Homo sapiens: one gene and its partners. The protein of the gene in region 1 interacts with the protein of each later gene in a pairwise test. Each region holds a gene or a part of one and is shown on either strand. Other genes may lie near its edges.

What was found. Proteins that work in one complex are often made in the same cells at the same time.
Region 2: the proteins of PITPNC1 (region 1) and HTATIP2 interact in binary tests that used the Homo sapiens proteins (3 or more experiments, as listed by UniProt).
Region 3: the proteins of PITPNC1 (region 1) and MAL2 interact in binary tests that used the Homo sapiens proteins (3 or more experiments, as listed by UniProt).
Region 4: the proteins of PITPNC1 (region 1) and DGAT2L6 interact in binary tests that used the Homo sapiens proteins (3 or more experiments, as listed by UniProt).

What each region holds. Positions count from the first base shown.
Region 1 is NC_000017.11:67,380,281-67,383,780, forward strand, and holds part of PITPNC1 (cytoplasmic phosphatidylinositol transfer protein 1), read left to right. Parts: intron 1-3,500.
Region 2 is NC_000011.10:20,366,714-20,370,213, forward strand, and holds part of HTATIP2 (protein HTATIP2), read left to right. Parts: intron 1-460; coding exon 461-568; coding exon of another isoform or gene 569-667; exon of another isoform or gene 668-942; intron 943-3,500. UniProt on the Homo sapiens protein: Represses translation by preventing reactivation of elongation factor eEF1A. May also inhibit nuclear import by competing with nuclear import substrates for binding to a subset of nuclear transport receptors.
Region 3 is NC_000008.11:119,242,768-119,246,173, forward strand, and holds the end of MAL2 (protein MAL2), read left to right. Parts: intron 1-649; coding exon 650-721; 3' UTR 722-2,906; downstream 2,907-3,406. UniProt on the Homo sapiens protein: Member of the machinery of polarized transport. Required for the indirect transcytotic route at the step of the egress of the transcytosing cargo from perinuclear endosomes in order for it to travel to the apical surface via a raft-dependent pathway.
Region 4 is NC_000023.11:70,180,483-70,183,982, forward strand, and holds part of DGAT2L6 (diacylglycerol O-acyltransferase 2-like protein 6), read left to right. Parts: intron 1-3,500. UniProt on the Homo sapiens protein: Diglyceride acyltransferase that uses fatty acyl-CoA as substrate. Particularly active with oleate as a substrate. Has no wax synthase activity to produce wax esters.

The DNA.
Region 1 (3,500 bases):
GCCAGGCTGGTCTTGAATGCCTGACCTCAGGCAATCCGCCTGCCTCAGCCTCCCAAAGTGCTGGGATTACAGGCATGAGCCACTGCGCCCAGCCAGCCCTTCCTTTCTTAATTGGCCAACAAAATCAGACTCATCAGACTCCACCTGTAATATAATTATAAATTCTTTAATGTATAATTCATTTTGGCCAAAGTATGATTCAGTTTCTGTAAGGTTCATATTCTGAAGTCATTTTCGGCTTTGTCAGAGAAGCAGGAGGGCAATTTAGATTAATAGATGTTTCCAATTAGTAGGATTCAGATTAGCTAAATCTGATGATGGATGAAGAAATGAGGCCTAGTTTGCCAGATGTTAAACCCCTAGAGTCAGAACTGATAGTAAATTCCACAGTCTCCACCATCCCCTTTTCCACTGACCCTTTTTCCACATTGAAAATGAGGAAGCAACTTGAGTTTCTTTAAATAAGATGTTTAGGTAAACTTTGGAAGCCTAACTTTTTTTTTTTCTTTTTGAGACACGGTCTCGCTCTGTCATCCAGGCTGGAGTGCAGTGGCGTGATCCTAGTTCACTGCAGCCTCCATCTCCTGGGCTCAAGTGATCCTCCCATCTCAGCCTCCTGAGTAGCTGGGACAATAGGTGTGTGCTGCCAACCCGGCTAATTTTTTTACTTTTTGTAGAGACAGGGACTCGCTGTGTTGCCCAGGCTGGTCTTGAACTCCTGAGCTTGAGTGATCCTCCTGCCTCAGCCTTTTAAAGTGCTGGGATTGCCGGGTGCGGTGGCTCACGCCTGTAATCCCAGCACTTGGGGAGGCTGAGGTGGGCAGATCACGAGGTCAGGAGATCGAGACCATCCTGGCTAACACAGTGAAACCCCGTCTCTACTAAAAATACAAAAAAATTAAGCAGGCCTGGTGGCGGGCGCCTGTAGTCCTAGCTACTTGGGACGCTGAGGCAGTAGAATGGCGTGAACCTGGGAGGCGGAGCTTGCAGTGAGCTGAGATCACGCCACTGCACTCCAGCCTGGGCGACAGAACAAGACTCCACTCAAAAAAAAAAAAAAAAAAAAGGGCTGGGATTACAGGCATGAGCCACTGCGCCCGGCCTGGGAGCCTAACTTTTGCTTCCACTCTTGGTTGGCTCTGGGCCTGATTCAACCTACATGGAACTTCTGGAACTTGTTTCTCTCTCTTTTTTTTTTTTTTTTGAGACGGAATCTCCCTCTGTCTCCCAGGCTGGAGCGCAGTGGTGCAATCTCAGCTCACTGCAAGGTCCACCTCCCGGGTTCACGCGAGTCTCCTGCCTCAGCCTCCCGAGTAGCTGGGACTACAGGCGCCAGCCACCGCACCCTGCTAATTTTTTGTATTTTTAGTAGAGACGGGGTTTCACCGTGTTAGCCAGGATGGTCTCAATCTCCTGACCTCGCGATCCGCCCGCCTTGGCCTCCCAAAGGCGTGAGCCACCGCGCCCGGCCTACTTGTTTCTCTTTAATCACCAGAGTTCATTGGTAGCAGTGTCCATACTTTTGAAAATGAAGCAAATGCTCATGCTTTGAAGAATCAGTGAGAGAACCCACACTTTGCCTGCTTCTTGTGCCTGGCCTTATCCCTTCTCCCTCATTTAACACTCTGGTGGTGGCGGGCGGTGGAGCATTAGTGGCACTGGTGTGTTATTATCTATATTTTGCAGATGAATACATTGAGATTCAGAAGGGTTAGGTAATGTGCTCCAGGCCACACAACTAGTTAATAGCCAAGCCAGAAGGAGAGCATGGTGAAACCCATTATTTGTTTTTCCTTACTCTGCTTTTTGCCTGTCACTAGTGTTTAATCCAGCAAAAGGAAAAACATTTCTTGAAAACAGATAAAGTCAGCACTATCAAGTAAATGAAAAATCAGAGGCCTTTTGACTTGCTATAGACGGTACTGGCCTCTACTATTTCTCTAGCTTTATTTTAACACATAAAATGTTCTCTAGTTCCAGGAAAAAAGAACAGCTCTGGGCGATCAAGAAAATAAAGCTGAACTACTGTCTAGATTAGAGTGTTGGTGGGGTTTTTTGGTGTGTGTGTGTGTGTGTGTGTGTGTGTGTGTGTTTTAGACATTAATTTCAGAGTAAAGAATTAATAAAAGTAACATTCCATAGATTAATTTTAATTAAAACATTTCATTGGAATAGTCCCTCGTTTGTGTTAAATGTGGTGGTCTCTGAACTCAATATAAGCCTGTTGGAAAGGTATGAACAGGAAAAGTTCCTGAGAGCTGAGAGTTGCTATAGAGAGAAAGTTGTCATTATCTTCATTTGAAACATTTGGTAGACGTAGATGTAGATTCTAGAGTTTTTGTTTGTTTGTTTCTTTTTCTGAGCCACACTCTCTCGCTCTGTCGCCCAGGCTGGAGTGCAGTGGGATGATTTCGGCTCACTGCGACCTCCACCGCCCGGTTTCAAGCAAGTCTCCTGCCTCAGCCTCCCGAGTAGCTGGGATTACAGGCGCCCACCATCACGCCAGGCTAATTTTTTGTATTTTTAGTAGAGAAGGGGTTTCACCATGTTGGTCAGGCTTGTCTCGAACTCCTGACCTCAGGCGATCCGCCCACTTTGGGCTCCCAAAGTGCTGGGATTACAGGCATGAGCCACTGCCCCCGGATGATTCTAGAGTTTTAGACTTAGAAGGCGTATTGGAGATGATTTATAATTGAGCCATTTATTTATTTATTTATTTGTTTGTTTATTTTTGAGATGGAGTCTTGCTCTTTCACCCAGGCTGGAGTGCAGTGGCGCAATCTTGGCTCACTGAAACCTCTGCCTCCCGAGTTCAAGAGATTCTCCTGCCTCAGCCTCCAGAATAGCTGGGATTTACAGGCTTGTACCACCCCAGCCAGCTAATTTTTGTGTTTTTAGTAGAGATGGGGTTTCACCATGTTGGTCAGGCTGGTCTCGAACTCCTGAGAGTTCATGCCCGGTGAGCCATTTCATTTTATAATGAAGTCTAGACCTGTAGTAGGTGCAGTTAAGTTGTCTACCTCATTGACAAACTCTAGGCTAGAACCAGGTCTGATTTAAGGCTCAAGGCTGTTCTACTATATGGAATTCTCCCTCCTCTGAGATTCCTTGGTGGAAGAAAATATTCTCCTGAGGACCCATGTGTAAAGCAGGTACACTGGCTCTACTCTCTAGTTGAAGGTGGCTGGGGACTCCAACCTTGTGTCTGCTTAGCGGGACACATAGGGTAGCCCCATTGGAACCTATTGGAAGGGTGGCCCACCTCCTCCCGCAGCCACTCGGTCCCAGTGAGCGACCTGCTCACCAAGGAGGCTCCTTGGAGCACAGTCTGAAGATCACCCTGCACCTGCCACCCTCGCCACAGAGGTACTTGTTAGTAAAATGAGCGTCTCTCAAGAGACGCTAAGCACATCCTAATATTATCTAAGGCAGGAATCCTTTTGTTTTCATTGCTTTCTTTACTGTTTAACCGTTCTGGCCAGGCGCGGTGGCTCATGCCT
Region 2 (3,500 bases), on another chromosome or scaffold:
ACCCCCATTTTACAGCTGAAAAAAAAAAGCTGTAGTGTATGATGAATAATTTGCCCGTAACTACATGCCTAGTGAGTGTAGCAAGCCCAAGATTTGCAGCTAGGTCTTCTTTAAGATGCCAAACGCCATCTCTTGCCCTCACATCATACCTCAGTGGTCTCCTTCCTGGTTAGCTACACACAGGTCTTTTATTTTTCCAGAGAGAGATTATAATCGAACCTGACTTCAGAAATCTGGATCACCCCTAGTCCAGTTATATAGACTGTGGACATATGTGTGTGTTGTTGATTTTCAACTGAGGTTCATTGCTTTTTGGTTGGAGAAAAGGAATTTGTAAAATTTGATGTTAAGTGGACAGGCCTGTCAGTAATGTTCTGTAACTTAGTCTTTAAATCTAGAGGGGGTTTTTGGTCTGTTGTTTAAATAACATGAAACTACATACAACTGTGTCCTTGCCTAGAATCAAGAAGTGGTGGACTTTGAAAAGTTGGATGACTACGCCTCTGCCTTTCAAGGTCATGATGTTGGATTCTGTTGCCTGGGTACCACCAGAGGGAAAGCTGGGGCGGTAAGGAAGGCATATGCTCTTTTCCCTTTTTGCTGGCCAGTAATATCAAGGATTCTTTTCTTGCTCACTCTTTTTCTTTGTGCCTGTTGCAATGCTTAAATGTGAATAAGCCTTTATTGTTTAAGATTCTATATGCTGCACTAACCTTTGGTATCCTTTTAATAGTACTGATAAGTTCGTCTTTCAAAGTAATCCTTGAGTTCAGGCCCCAGTGCTGGAGACGTCGTAAATATTTACATGATTTTGCCTATTGTGATTATCGCTATCACTACATCCCCTGACTAAGGGAAACCATGATGTCTGAGTAAAACTAATTGGTTTATGCTGTTAACAATCAGCTGTTTTTCCCCTTAATAAATGTTTGAAATTTGAAATGTTCTGTCTCACTTGAGTGATTTGCTTCAACTTATTTTCATGTCAAGCTTTAAACTTCTGGAATAGAACATCAGAACACAGGCACGATTCAACCAGCCTCCAGCGATGACTCAGCCTTCAGCGATGATTCAACCCCACTAATGATTCAGTCTTTACTGACGCAAAAGTCTTTTAACGCACATTTTATTTTCTTTTTAATGGTGTTCTAAATTGAGTCAGCTCCTGTACAGAAGTCATAGTTTACTACATAGTTAGAAATCAGAGTTTACTACCTGGATTCTGGGCAAATGTTAGTGCGGGTACATCTTATTTAATTTATACTTTGACTATAGTTTATTCCTCTGGCAGAATTTACATGCTGGAGCTGAAAAAACCTGCATGTTCTGCATATGTATCCCAGAACTTAAAGTAAAATTTAAAAATATTTAATAATAAATACATAAATAAAACAGAAGAAAGTGAAAAAAGTAAATAAATAAATAAAGCCGAGGCACAGTGGTTCATGCCTGTAATCCCAGGAAAACAAGAAAAAAGAAAAAATATATATATATATGACTATGACTCTGCCATGGGAATTCTCCTTAGGTTTATAAGCCAGACCCCTTCACCTGAAACATTAAGGGAGCATATAGTGAAGAACTATTCATTTATACCAACCGAGTAGTTAGATTCAGATGTATTTCTTTGGGCCTCCTTGTGATGCAAAGAGTAATTCTATGTATGCTTTCAATCAAGATGTATTTCCATACCTTCTGCAGTTCTGCCTATCTGTCCTGGAACACAGCTGGGATTGGAGCTCTGTGATGGGAACTATGGATTATAGAGAAGTTTGACTTTCCCAGGAATTGGCACATTATCTCTCCTAGAAAGGGTCATGTTCCTGCTTAACAGTGGGTGCAGTCTTTTCTGTCCCAGGCACAGTCACAAGTGGTGTGCCCTCCAAAAGCATTGAAAAACTTTTGTTCCAGGACACTGCAGGTTTGTCTCAAGTGCCAACCTGGTTTTGGTGGTGAGTCAGCAAAACAAAATGCTGCATTAGGCATAGAAGGGTTGATTTTCATGACATAAGGCAAATCTCATTATAGGGTGTGCCAGGGAAAAGTCTAAACTGCTTTTTGTGTTCAAAATGGGTAATGCAATTTTAATCAGAGGAATTGTGTGTCTTTACTATCCAGAATTTTCTTTTTTAATGGGGTTGGTTCTTCACGTCTCAGGCTATTCAATACCTTTTGTTCTCCTTTAAAATCAATTTGGAAAGATAAAAGTAATTAACTAGTAAGCAAGAATAGACTAATGAGCCTAGACTATTCACCTAGCTTAGAAATGAATTAGGACTTAAATGATTTAAGAGGTTAGTGGTGGAAAGCAAGCTGACACTTATACCAGAAAAGTGTTTTGTTTGTTTTGGGGGCTTTAAAAAAAAAACTAATTTGGGCTGTGTACAATATAAAGTTGGGAGGTTGATAACTTTAGCCAATATGAAAGAGGTGACAGTTCATATGTGGCTAAGTAACGATAGTGTTTTAAGTGGAGGTTGTGGATTTCCAAGCTTATCCCAGCTGGTGTTCTGGGTCAGCAGCCCTCTCTGTAGAAAAAAGTTCGTTGGGTGGTTTATCATATGAGTACTACAAAGCTAGTGGCAAAACTAGTACGCTTCACTAGGGATTTTGTAACTGGAACACCTCATATATTGCCTTAGCAGTCTGTGTTTCCAGCAGAGAAACTTCAAGAAATTCAGCGTTTTTGTCTCAGTATTGAGATCCTCTGTGTAGGTGGCTTATTTCCATGTGATGTTCAGTGTATTAGTTTGCTAGGGCTGCCATAACCCAAGTAGCTTGAACAACAGAAACGTATTGTCTCACAGTTCTGGAGGCTAGAAGTCTGAGATCCAGGTCTCAGCAGGCTGGTCAGTGCTCTGAGGCTGAGCCCTTGAGTTTCCAGGCCCTCTCCTTGTCTTGTAGATGGCAGCCTTCTCTTTGTGTCTCTTTACGTGGTATTTTCCCTGAATACCTGTGCCTATATCCACATTTCCCCTTTTTATAAGACCACTAGTCATACTGGATTAGGGACCACCCTATTTAGTATGATCTCAACTAATTACATCTGCAATGAACTTATTTCCAAATAAGGTCATATTCTGAGGTAATGGGGGTTAGGAGTTCAACATACGCATTTTGGGGGGATGTAATCCAACCCACAAAATTCAGTCTACTCAGGTTTCTATTGACACTGGTTCTAGGAAAAGGTCTATTAGCTTTCCTCAGCTGTTTGGAAGACTATTTCCTTTAACAGTAGCTGGGCAGATGCTAATCTTCCTTTTCATATTCACAGAACACAGTTGTTCAGTCAATGCACTGGCTCCCTGACTTGGCCCTGATCCAGATCTACTGCATCAGCATCTCTGAATTTGGAAGCTTGGAATCTGTATTTTTAGCAGGCTCCTTGGGAGATCCTGATGCAGTCAACCCTGTCCTTCTTGTTGAACCTACTTTCAAGAGGCATTGGGGTGTATTAATTCCCCTCACTTGCTGGTTTTCTGGGTACTGTGGTCCTGGAT
Region 3 (3,406 bases), on another chromosome or scaffold:
GTCTTTTAGTCTTCTATGGATCATAAGCCCCAAAAGGGTGAGGACATTATCTACTGTTTGTTTATATGTACCAAGTATAGTGATATACACACAGTTGGTGCTGAAGAAATTCTCATTAATTCCAAGTAGAGTGCAGATTTGTACACAGGACTGTCTCCCATACAAGAGCAAGCCAACCTGATAATTCATTTCCACTTGTCTTAGTTGAGTTTTAAAGTTACCTTCCATCATCATAGAAATTATTTGATGCATCCTCAGGTTCTGATAGTTGCTGGCTTCCTTGGCTGTGAAGCCACTACATGAACAGAACTTCATGCTGAATTTTTAAATACAGTGCTTAGGGATTCACAAATACTTAAGTGAGCCCAGAATGTGAACAGATTGAACAAATGTTCAGTGTAAAGTTGTCCACAAATGAGAAAATTATTAGGAGCTAAAATGTTTAAAGGAAGGGGGGAGGGTAATTGTATGAGGGAATAAAACAGTTGTACAAATCATCAAAAAAAAAAAAACAATGTAAAATATTTTTGTAAGTGTCGAAGTATCTTTAGGTAGATTGTTGGTCAAACTTCATATGGTTGTTCTTTAGGACACTGTTTATAAGTCGGTGTTGTAAATCTGATGTGAATTTTTGTTTCTTTTTTCTTAGATTTTTGCCTTTATGACGACAGCTTGTTATGGTTGCAGTTTGGGTCTGGCTTTACGAAGATGGCGACCGTAACACTCCTTAGAAACTGGCAGTCGTATGTTAGTTTCACTTGTCTACTTTATATGTCTGATCAATTTGGATACCATTTTGTCCAGATGCAAAAACATTCCAAAAGTAATGTGTTTAGTAGAGAGAGACTCTAAGCTCAAGTTCTGGTTTATTTCATGGATGGAATGTTAATTTTATTATGATATTAAAGAAATGGCCTTTTATTTTACATCTCTCCCCTTTTTCCCTTTCCCCCTTTATTTTCCTCCTTTTCTTTCTGAAAGTTTCCTTTTATGTCCATAAAATACAAATATATTGTTCATAAAAAATTAGTATCCCTTTTGTTTGGTTGCTGAGTCACCTGAACCTTAATTTTAATTGGTAATTACAGCCCCTAAAAAAAACACATTTCAAATAGGCTTCCCACTAAACTCTATATTTTAGTGTAAACCAGGAATTGGCACACTTTTTTTAGAATGGGCCAGATGGTAAATATTTATGCTTCACGGTCCATACAGTCTCTGTCACAACTATTCAGTTCTGCTAGTATAGCGTGAAAGCAGCTATACACAATACAGAAATGAATGAGTGTGGTTATGTTCTAATAAAACTTATTTATAAAAACAAGGGGAGGCTGGGTTTAGCCTGTGGGCCATAGTTTGTCAACCACTGGTGTAAAACCTTAGTTATATATGATCTGCATTTTCTTGAACTGATCATTGAAAACTTATAAACCTAACAGAAAAGCCACATAATATTTAGTGTCATTATGCAATAATCACATTGCCTTTGTGTTAATAGTCAAATACTTACCTTTGGAGAATACTTACCTTTGGAGGAATGTATAAAATTTCTCAGGCAGAGTCCTGGATATAGGAAAAAGTAATTTATGAAGTAAACTTCAGTTGCTTAATCAAACTAATGATAGTCTAACAACTGAGCAAGATCCTCATCTGAGAGTGCTTAAAATGGGATCCCCAGAGACCATTAACCAATACTGGAACTGGTATCTAGCTACTGATGTCTTACTTTGAGTTTATTTATGCTTCAGAATACAGTTGTTTGCCCTGTGCATGAATATACCCATATTTGTGTGTGGATATGTGAAGCTTTTCCAAATAGAGCTCTCAGAAGAATTAAGTTTTTACTTCTAATTATTTTGCATTACTTTGAGTTAAATTTGAATAGAGTATTAAATATAAAGTTGTAGATTCTTATGTGTTTTTGTATTAGCCCAGACATCTGTAATGTTTTTGCACTGGTGACAGACAAAATCTGTTTTAAAATCATATCCAGCACAAAAACTATTTCTGGCTGAATAGCACAGAAAAGTATTTTAACCTACCTGTAGAGATCCTCGTCATGGAAAGGTGCCAAACTGTTTTGAATGGAAGGACAAGTAAGAGTGAGGCCACAGTTCCCACCACACGAGGGCTTTTGTATTGTTCTACTTTTTCAGCCCTTTACTTTCTGGCTGAAGCATCCCCTTGGAGTGCCATGTATAAGTTGGGCTATTAGAGTTCATGGAACATAGAACAACCATGAATGAGTGGCATGATCCGTGCTTAATGATCAAGTGTTACTTATCTAATAATCCTCTAGAAAGAACCCTGTTAGATCTTGGTTTGTGATAAAAATATAAAGACAGAAGACATGAGGAAAAACAAAAGGTTTGAGGAAATCAGGCATATGACTTTATACTTAACATCAGATCTTTTCTATAATATCCTACTACTTTGGTTTTCCTAGCTCCATACCACACACCTAAACCTGTATTATGAATTACATATTACAAAGTCATAAATGTGCCATATGGATATACAGTACATTCTAGTTGGAATCGTTTACTCTGCTAGAATTTAGGTGTGAGATTTTTTGTTTCCCAGGTATAGCAGGCTTATGTTTGGTGGCATTAAATTGGTTTCTTTAAAATGCTTTGGTGGCACTTTTGTAAACAGATTGCTTCTAGATTGTTACAAACCAAGCCTAAGACACATCTGTGAATACTTAGATTTGTAGCTTAATCACATTCTAGACTTGTGAGTTGAATGACAAAGCAGTTGAACAAAAATTATGGCATTTAAGAATTTAACATGTCTTAGCTGTAAAAATGAGAAAGTGTTGGTTGGTTTTAAAATCTGGTAACTCCATGATGAAAAGAAATTTATTTTATACGTGTTATGTCTCTAATAAAGTATTCATTTGATAATCTTTGTGGTCATCTTTTACACCATTCACTTTGAAATTCAGTTAAAGGTTTGATATAAATTTGGCAGAGCTTATAGAATTATAATGTATAAAAAGTTCTGTTTTAAACATTTCTGTGTAAAAGTCTCTCAGGAATTGTCAGTAAGTCTTTTTTCTTTGATGAAGGTGAAAGAGGCAAGTCTTTGGAAGTAACGTTGCAAAGGAAGTTTAAATGAGAATTCTGTTTTGCCGAGTGTGATGACTTATGCCAGTATTCCCAATACTTTGGGAAGCCGAGGCAGAAGGATCACTTGACACTAGGAATTCAGGACCAACCTGGGCAATATAGCAAGACCTCATCTCTACAAAATAATTTAAAAATTAGCTGGGTGCATGTGGCACGTGCCTCTAGTCCCAGCTACTTGGGAAACTGAGGTGGGAGGATTGCTTTAGCCCAGGATGTTGAGGCTCCAACCTGGGTGACAGAGTGAGACCCTGTCTCACACACACACAAAAAAAACC
Region 4 (3,500 bases), on another chromosome or scaffold:
AAATAAAGAATAAACGGGATTTTTTTTCACCTTCATTTTTAAAAGTTATTTTTATTGTGGTACAATACCTAGAACATAAAATTTACCGTTTTAACCATTTCTAAGTATGCTCTAAGTACATGTCATTAAGTACATTCACAATGCATGGCCACCATCCATCTCCAGAATTTTATCTTCCCAAACTGAAACTCTGTATCCATTACACAATAACTCCCTAATTCCCCCTCCCTCCAGCCCCTGGCAACCACCATTCTGCTTTCTGTCTCTATGAATTTGCCTATTCTAGGTACCTCATATAATTGGAATTATTATTCCAGTGTTTGTCCTTTCATGATTGGCTTATTTTACTTAGTATAATGGCTTTAAGGCTCACCATGTGGTATCATGGGTCAGAATTTATTTCCTTTGAAAGGCTGAGTTATACGGTGCCTTGTGTGGATATGCCACATATTGTTTTCCATTCATCTATTGATGGACATTTAGGTTGCCTTGACGTTTTGGCTATTGTGAGTAATGTTGCTATGAACATAGATGTACAAACATCTCTTTGAGACTCTGCTTTCAATGCTTTTGATATATACCCAGAAATGGAATTCCTGGATCACACAGTAATTCTGTTTTTATTTTTATTTTTTGGAATTGCCATCCTGTTTTCCTCAATGGCTGCACAATTTCACATTCCCACCAACAGTGCACAAGAGTTTCAATTTCTCCACATCCTCACCTATACTTCTTATTTTCTGTTTTTTAAATAATAGCCATCCCAATGGGTGTGAGATGATCTCATTGTGGTTTTGCTTTACATTTCCCTGATGATCAGTAATGTTGAGCATCTTTTCATGTGCCTGTTGGCCATTTGATTTGACTTCTTTTAGACTGATTAGCTTTACCATTCCATTTGTCTTTCTCTTCTAGTTTAGGTGCTATACATCTTGTTTCTGTTCTTTTAGTGATTATGCTAGAAATTACAACACAAATCCTGGGTCTTGAAGGTTACCAAGGTAGCTTCAGTGTCCAACAGGGCGTGATGCCCACAGAGGTGCCTAAGACATTCAAATATGTTCAATCCAACAGTTATAGATTAAATACTAATGATATGATCTTGGGCTGTCCTTGCTGTGAGATCCTTGCAGCCTCCTTACTATCTAGTAACAGAGATAAACCAATCATTCATTCAATCATTGTCCGCATTTTATGTGCCAGTGCTGGACATATACACAGATCACTATAATGTAAGACAGACTGTGGTGAGTGAAAGAGCCATGACAAAGTGATATTAGGGTATCGGAATAAGAAATTATTACATAAGTTGAACAGATCAGGGGAGACAGGAAAGGGAATCACCGTGGAATGGCAAACAGGACATGAGTTCTGGAGTTCATCAGACTTAGATGGCAATTAGCTATGTGACTCCAAGCAAGTACTGCAATCCCTCTAAGTCTCAGTATCCCCATCCTCTCAGTCTGGTCCATGGGAAATGCTCCTACAGAAATGTCTGCCTTCCTCCCTTCCTTCCTCCTCTTCTTTCTCGCCTATCTTTCCTTCCTCCTTTTCTTTCTCACCTTCTTTCCTTCCTTCCTTCTATCTTGCTCAGAGCCTCCCTCAGTGCTTCCCCTCCTTCCCAAATGATGTTCAGAATCATAGCTGATTACTGAGCATTACTGGAAGTAATGGGGAGGAAATAGAGAAAATGGAGGAAAGGCAGAGGGACAAGAAGGAAGGAGGAAGCAAGAAGAGAGGAACGAGAAAATGGCTTGGAGGAGATTTGGAACACAAATATTCATGTCCTTAAAATTAGGCTGTGGCTCTGACAGCCCCTCTGAGAGCCAGCTTTCATTCAGAGGATGGCTTTCCCTCATCTCTTCCGGGCTTGTATCACCATCCCCCTAAACTATCTCAATATCCTTTTTCCTGATCGTCTAACCTCTGATCTCCACCCTCTCCAATCTATTCCAGTGCTTACTTCTGGAGGTCTTTCAAAAGCATCTTTTTTTTTTTTTTTTTTTTTTTTTTTTGAGACGGAGTCTTACTCTGTTGCCCAGGCTGGAGTGCAGTGGGGCAATCTCGGCTCACTGCAACCTCTGCCTCCCGGGTTCAAGCAATTCACCTGCCTCAGCCTCCTGAGTAGCTGGGATTACAGGTGTGTGCCACCACACCCAGCTAATTTTTTGTTTGTTTGTTTTTGTTTTGAGGCAGAGTCTCGCTCTGTCGCCCAGGCTGGAGTGCAGTGGCGCGATCTCGGCTCACTGCAAGCTCCGCCTCCCGGGCTCACGCCATTCTCCTGCCTCAGCCTCCCGAGTAGCTGGGACTACAGGTGCCCGCCACGATGCCCGGCTAAGTTTTTTGTATTTTTTTAGTACAGATGGGGTTTCACCGTGTTAGCCAGGATGGTCTCGATCTCCTGACCTTGTGATCCGCCTGCCTCGGCCTCCCAAAGTGCTGGGATTACAGGCGTGAGCCACCGCGCCCGACCATTTCTTTTGTATTTTTAGTAGAGACAGGGTTTTGCCACGTTGGCCAGGCTGGTCTCGAACTCCTGACCTCAGGTGATCTGCCCTCCTCAGCCTCCCAAAGTGCTGGGATTACAGGCGTGAGCCACCGCCTCAAAAGCATATTTGATTACATCCCTCTCCTGCTCAAAAATAGTCAGTGGTTTCCCATTGCCTAAGTGATGATGTATAAAGGTATCAGACTGGGCATTCAAAGCCCTCCTCCATTCTCTGGTGTTAACCCCTTGCCAGCTCGTCCTCCTACTCTTCCCTACGTGATTGCCTTGCGTTCCAGGCAATCTATTCACTAAACAAACAGGAAATGTACTCTCCCACTCCTTCACCTCTGCTCCCACTACTCCCACTACTCCTGCCAGTGGAAAGATGGCATGATAGCTCTTCCTGGACTATCCAGGGACAGCGCCTCCTTTTAGATATTACTCAAGTCATATCTTCTCTGTAACATTTTCCAGACAACCCAAGACTATATCGCCTCTGAAAGTCTAGAGCATTTTGTAAGAATGGCTGGGTAGCAGCCATTATATCTTTGGTGCCCTCTACCCAATAAGCTCCATGAGAACAGGAGCCCTTTCTTATCATTATTATATTTCATGCAAGACCAAGCTTGACACTAACTTGAAGGTCTTCCAGATTTCTTCTTCCTCAGCAGAAATCTTTAAATTCACTCTTATTCTTTTTTCTCTCCCTTGGACATCCTTTTTGGGTGTGTGGGCCTGCCCTCTTTCTCTGGTTTCTGGTACTGTAAAAAATAGAACAGGTTGGGTGCAGTGGCTCATGCCTGTAATCCAAATATTTTTGGAGGCCGAGGTGGGAGGATCGCTCGAGCCTGGGAGTTTGAGACCAGCTTGGGCAACACAGTGAGACTCCATCTCTACAGAAAAAAAAAAAAATCAAAAAATTAGCCAGGCATGGTGGTGCATGCCTGTGGTCCTAGCTATTGTGCAGGCTGAAATGGGGGGCTCCTTTGAGCCTAAGAGGTAAAGGTTAGAG